Regions from separate parts of the Homo sapiens genome. Here region 2 is linked to region 1. Evidence: fine-mapped expression QTL. A gene starts in region 1. The other region holds a variant in brackets. All regions are shown on one strand. Distances are from middle to middle. Region 1 holds the start of MPI (mannose phosphate isomerase). Region 2 overlaps SCAMP2 (secretory carrier membrane protein 2).

Region 1 (2,900 bases):
CAAAGAGGAGAATGACATCTGCACTGTCAAGGTAGCAGAAAAACTATGACTCTTAAATGATTCTTTCAGGGGTTAACATACATCTTCCAGTTTCAGAAGCAGAGGCGAAAGCCTTCCTATGCTTTGGCTTTTTCTCCACTAAATAGGCAGGAGAAATATTTTAGGTTAATAAAAATGCAAAAAAATAGTCAAAGTAAAAAAACTTAATTGTCAAAGAGGGCTGAATTAAAATTCACTAAGTGCTAAGAGTGGTTGGGGGAAGGAGAGTGCTGGAAATCCCAGCCTATTATGACAAAACCTCTCTTCTTTTTGATAACACTATCTAGTCCATTAGCCTGAAGAGCCAAGTGGGTCTCCTCCCTCCTTGCTGCCTCACCCTTCCCAGCTGATTCTTATGACTTGCCTCAGGCCCTTTCTCCTGACCTGCGGGTAAAGTGGGCTGAAATACAGCCCGGGGCTCACCTCTGCATAAGGCTTGTCCTCTGCGATCTGGGCCAGTGGATCACTGCTGGCCAACAGCCGCGCCACTTCGCTGTTGGAACCCATCTTCCCCCAGGCATACTGCTGCACCGCACAGGAAAGTGGGAATACTAGGGGCACAGACAGGGTCAGCTGCCACTCCACTCCTCAGGCCCCACCCTAGTGTCCCGGGAAACCAGGCAAGAGCTGGGGGTGCTCACTGGGGACAGAGTCAAATAAGGGTTTTGTAGGCTGTTGGATGAGACCCCCCTCCGCTGCAGGCCTCGATGTTCCCAACTGTCAGATGGGCAGCAGTAAGGACCTTGTGCTGATCTGAGGCAGGGTGGCGGGGAGGGAGCAGAAGGTACCTATCCCACGGCACGACGTCTAGAAGGGCCCCCTCCCCTCGGAGGTCAATCCCCATCGCAGGTGGCCACACCTCTGCCCGGCACCCACCCATCTTTCCGCGGAATGCCAGGAGCGGACTCAACCTGGCCGATAATGCCGGGAGTCGTCCCCAGGACGCGCTCCACGAACACACTCGCCGACACCCCAGCCAATGGCTCACCTCGCGGAGCGGCCATGCTCGCCCCCTGCACCAGGATTAAGCACGTATGCCTTTCCCGGCAGCCCCCGCGGCCCTCTGCGCCCAGAGCTTCACGGGAAATGTAGTTCCCTGAGCGTTCCGCCAGGCCCCGGGGCACCCGTGCCCAGAGGCTTACGGCCGCGATCTTCGGTCTCACTATTCATTCATTCTTTCCATCGCCGGGCACAGATGTACTGAAAACCTGCTAAGTACCACGGACTGTTCTAAGGGCTGGAGGATACATCAGAGAGCAAGATAGCCTTCCCTCTGCCTTTGTAGAGCGCTTACATTCTGGTGAAGGCAAGACAGACAAGTATTGTAAGCAAATCATGTAGTATGTTGAAAGGTCAAGGCCACAAAAAGTAAGGGGGCAGGTGGCAGTGGGAGGCAGTTTGCAGAATATAAAAGGCTGTCTGGGCAAGCCTCTTGAGGAGGTGAGGTTTGAGTCCAGACTTGGCGGTGAGGAAGGCAGGAGTGTTCTGCGGGGAGGAAACAGCCACAGCGGAAGCCAGAGCAAGGCGGGAATGTGGGACTGTGCCGGGCGTGTTGGGGAGGGAACTGCTAGCAAGGAGGCCACTGTGGCTGGAGCAGAGTGAGTAAGACAGGGGCAGTGAGGAGGTCAGAGAAGAGAGGAGGGGGGCAGAGCTTTGCAGGCTATTGCTATTGTGAAGACTTTGGGTTTTACTTCGAGTCTCAGCAATTACAGATTTGAGCAAAGAATTGCTGTGATGTGAGTAGGGACATACTAGTGATGATGATGGTAAATGTCACATGCAAGGCCCTTCACTGCTCTGAGCTTTGTAGAATGGGGTGAATAATGCCAGCCTGACATGCTTGTTGGAGGGTCAGATGGGATGACGTGAGACACCTATAAGGCAGTCAGCTCCCTGTGCTCCTCTGATCCTTCCCGTCCCAGGTGCTGTAGAAAGTCAGAACCCCAACTTCTACTCCAGGCTGAGCTGCTTACAAGTTGCACACACAGAAGTCAGGGGAATTACGAAGAGCTGTGCATAGGGAAGGATGGCCTTGGGCCTTGGCTCTGCAGTAATCTTGGCTATATCCTGTGGTGAAAGGCTTTGACATCCAGACCTTCTCAGTCAACAGCCTCCTAGGAGGAGGACAGTCAGTGGCTCAGGCCTGTAATCCTAGCACCTTAGGAGGCAGAGGCAGAAGGATTGCTTGAGGCTAGGAGCACAACAGTCAAAGCTCCGGGGAACCTGGAATGAGGAGTTACAGTCCTGACTCTACCCTCATCACCCCTGCAATACCCTCATTCCCACAGCCTCTACCATATGTGCCCAGGGGAAAGAGCGGGTGCCGTTTTCCCTGTAATCCTCTGCCCAGGTGTGGGTATCTATCTCACCTCCCCTGGGGTCCTCTGGCTCAAATAAATCAGCTTGCATTTTAAAGGAAGCTTTACCATGCACTAAGGAATAATAAAATGGATAATACAAGACTCATGACAGCCCCCCGCCTGGCCAGCCGCCCCGTCCGGGAGGGAGGTGGGGGGGTCAGCCCCCAGCCCGGCCAGCCGCCCCGTCCGGGAGGTGAGGGGCGCCTCTGCCCGGCCGCCCCTACTGGGAAGTGAGGAGCCCCTCTGCCCAGCCAGCTGCCCCGTCCGGGAGGGAGGTAGGGGGGTCAGCCCCCCGCCCGGCCAGCCACCCCGTCCGGGAGGTGAGGGGCGCCTCTGCCCGGCCGCCCCTACTGGGAAGTGAGGAGCCCCTCTGCCCGGCCACCACCCCGTCTGGGAGGTGTACCCAACAGCTCATTGAGAACGGGCCATGATGACAATGGCAGTTCTGTGGAATAGAAAGGGGGGAAAGGTGGGGGAAAGATTGAGAAATCGGATGGTTGC
Region 2 (2,900 bases), 37 kb after region 1:
TCACCCAACTCCCTGGGTCCTCACAGCCAGCGGTTCTCCAGCCATCAGTGGAACCAACCCAGCCGACCCCCCAGGTAGTGCTGACAAAGAACTCTGGCCTTTTCTCTCCAGTGAGGGAATCATCCAGACCAGTAGCTGAGCCCTGAGGCTGGGGGCAAGCAGAGAGCTTTCAGCCTTGGCCCCCTAAGGGCCCTCTTGCTAATTTGTTCGGAGCTGGTCACCTACAAGTAGAGGGGCTGCTCTGCCAATTAATATCCTTACTCCCTCCATCCCACCCACCACCACCACTGAGAAATAAGCTCTACTCACCAGGCCGGGCTCCTCGGTGCCTCCAGAGAGGGCATTTGTCCCTGTTGTACCCCTCCAGGTCCTCCTCGGGCCTTTGGCTTGTTCTCTCTTCCTTGGGGCCCAGAATCTCTCTCTTTTTTTTAACTTCATTAATTCTCACCTTCCTTCCTGTCTTCCTTTGTCCCTTCACCAAATACTGTGAATCTTGCCTGCTTTGTGCCTGGTGCTCCACTGCGCCGCCTCACTGCCCTCCCGCTGCACCCCTCGCTGCCCCTATGAGCGTGACCCATGGTGGAGTTGTGTGTTGCAGCTCCTGCTTAGACAGGCCAGCAAGTTCCCGCCTGCCCAATTCCTGGCAGTGAGCGAGCTCTCAGAGAGGCAGATGCTCCTAGGAGGAGAAAGTATTCTCAGAGACAGCTACATGCGAAAGCTTCCGAAGGTAGGCCTAATGTAGATGAGCAGGAGGAAGGGCAGGGCACCCGGAGCCTGCCCCACACCCCTCCCAGGCCCCAGAGCCCTGTGGAGGTGAGGCAGGCCTTACATGCGGAGTTGCCTTTCTGTGCAGCTGGGTGGTGGGCTGTAGGGAGCTGGGTCCTTCTCAGCTGGCGTCACAGACTTGGAGGAGGTCAAGACCCCCAGCGTGGCACAGCGGGGTCAGTTCTGCTCCTGCTTCCGCCCCCAGTGCCTGAAACTTGGCTCTCCACGTCAGCCTTAGGTCTTTGAAGAGCTTTTGGAGAGGTTGGTGTGTGTATACATGTGTGTGTGTACACATGTGCCTGGTTTGTCATCCTGTGAAATGACCAGTTTGAGATCTCTCCCTAAAAAGGACTGTAGTCTCATCCTTCAGGAGGAACCTGGCCCAAATGGCAGCAGCTGCCAGCAGGTGCAGGGCCCCGGGGCCAGGTCTGTTCAGCCTCACATACAGTCAGTCCCTTACTGTTACTCAGAGGCTCTACCCCGCCTGGAGAGGAGATAAGTGTGGACTCTGCATGCCACTAAAGCCAGGCAGGGCAGGGCCACACCTAAGGGGCTGTCCTGGGGTGTAGCCAATTGCAGTTTAGGGGGACCTCAGGAGGCAGCTCCTGGGGGCAGGCCATGGGGCAGGGTGCTTGTACAGATCCTGAGGCTCAGGCACACGCCATCTGCCTTCACGTGTCTCCCCTTTCCACTCACTGTTAGCAGGCTTGCACTGTTTTCCTTCTCACACATCCACCAGGCTCTTCAAATGAGGCTTGGGTCTGTGGGTTTCTTATTATAGTTTAGTTTCTTGTGAGGTCTTTTTCCCAAAGGTCACAATCACTGAGCGCTGCCTTGA[C/T]CCAGTATGGGGAAGAGGTGGAGAAGCCAATGGGGGTAGTTTTCCCAACTCAAGCTTAGGGATGAGGGGAGAGGACAGCTTAGTCATGGCCAAGGGGTCAGGAAGGTGTGGGGGCAGTGGAAGACAGGTTGGCCTCTCTAAGGTGGTCTCTGGTACCTAAGACACTCTGTGGGGCGGGGACTGCTTCTGGGACTCCTTGATGGCTGTCCCTGCCTGGGGCAAGGCCTCTCTGCCTGCCTACCCAGGCTGACACTGTTTCTGTTTGTTGTGTCTGGCTGTCCCTGTACCTCCCCTGTTCTCTCCAGGCCGTGGTGTCTGCAGCCCAGGCAGGCCTGCTCCGGCAGCAGGAAGAACTGGACAGGAAAGCTGCCGAGCTGGAACGCAAGGAGCGGGAGCTGCAGAACACTGTAGCCAACTTGCATGGTAAGGGAGGCTGCTGGGGCCTGGGGCTGCCCTGCCTGGCATAGAAGAGTGTCCTGAAACCTGTGCGGAGGGCCTCCCAGCATTCACCCTGAGCTGCCTTAGAGTTTTGTGGGGCTCTTCTCATCACAGGATGCTGGTCCTGGGAAGAGCAGTAAGTTGCAAGTCAGGAGACCTGCAGTGTAGTTGTAATGGCTGTAGATTACTTCTGCACTCCTTCCTAGCTCTCAAATTCCTTGATTCTTTGATAGCATAGGGGCTTTGGTCCCACAATTCCTTGCTAATGATGATGAACTGAGTTCTCACACTTATGGGCTGCTTGTTAATAAAAATAATCACTTAGGCCATTTAGCTGTCTGTATTTCCCAGTGCATTTGGGGTCTTTTATCTCCATGTGAGCTTGTTGGTATCTCTTTGGGTTCCATTATCCTGTTCTGTCCCACTCCATGCTCCATGCAGACTCCAAGCCCCGCTTGCTGGAGCCCCTCTGGGAACCCTGGTTTGGCCCATACACTATGCTGGCGTGCATGCACCTTGATGCCCCTTCTGAGGCTGGGCCCTTACCTCGTCACTCTTTTTGCCCTACCCAGTGAGACAGAACAACTGGCCCCCTCTGCCCTCGTGGTGCCCTGTGAAGCCCTGCTTCTATCAGGATTTCTCCACAGAGATCCCTGCCGACTACCAGCGGATATGCAAGATGCTCTACTATCTGTGGATGTGTGAGTCCCACTCCTGCCTTCCAAGCGCAAGGGCGAATTGGGTGTGACTTGAGAGCCCCATCTTGGTCCTGGCTGCTCCTCCCTGGTATACAGGCTTTCAGCAGACTCCAGCCTTCCTCAGTGCCTGGGCTGGGTTGGGGAGATGCCTCTGCCCACAG

The links. PIP is the estimated chance that this variant, and not a neighbour inherited with it, causes the effect.
Region 2: its variant is the best candidate, but not a certain one, in a credible set for the expression of MPI in whole blood (TOPMed, PIP 0.90).

Annotation. Positions count from the first base shown.
Region 1 is chr15:74,888,217-74,891,116 of GRCh38, reverse strand. It overlaps MPI (mannose phosphate isomerase), which reads right to left and starts at 1,075. Exons shown (of 8, transcript NM_002435.3): 1 at 1,028-1,075; 2 at 463-590. The coding sequence starts at 1,043. RefSeq lists enhancers at 749-828, 626-1,159, 949-1,248, 1,409-1,458.
Region 2 is chr15:74,851,195-74,854,094 of GRCh38, reverse strand. SCAMP2 (secretory carrier membrane protein 2) reads left to right here. Exons shown (of 9, transcript NM_005697.5): 3 at 1-74; 4 at 1,909-2,026; 5 at 2,614-2,742. Among named protein-coding and RNA genes, the nearest start is that of ULK3, 9.5 kb to the right of the region's middle. The variant C/T (reference allele first, on the strand shown) is at 1,604.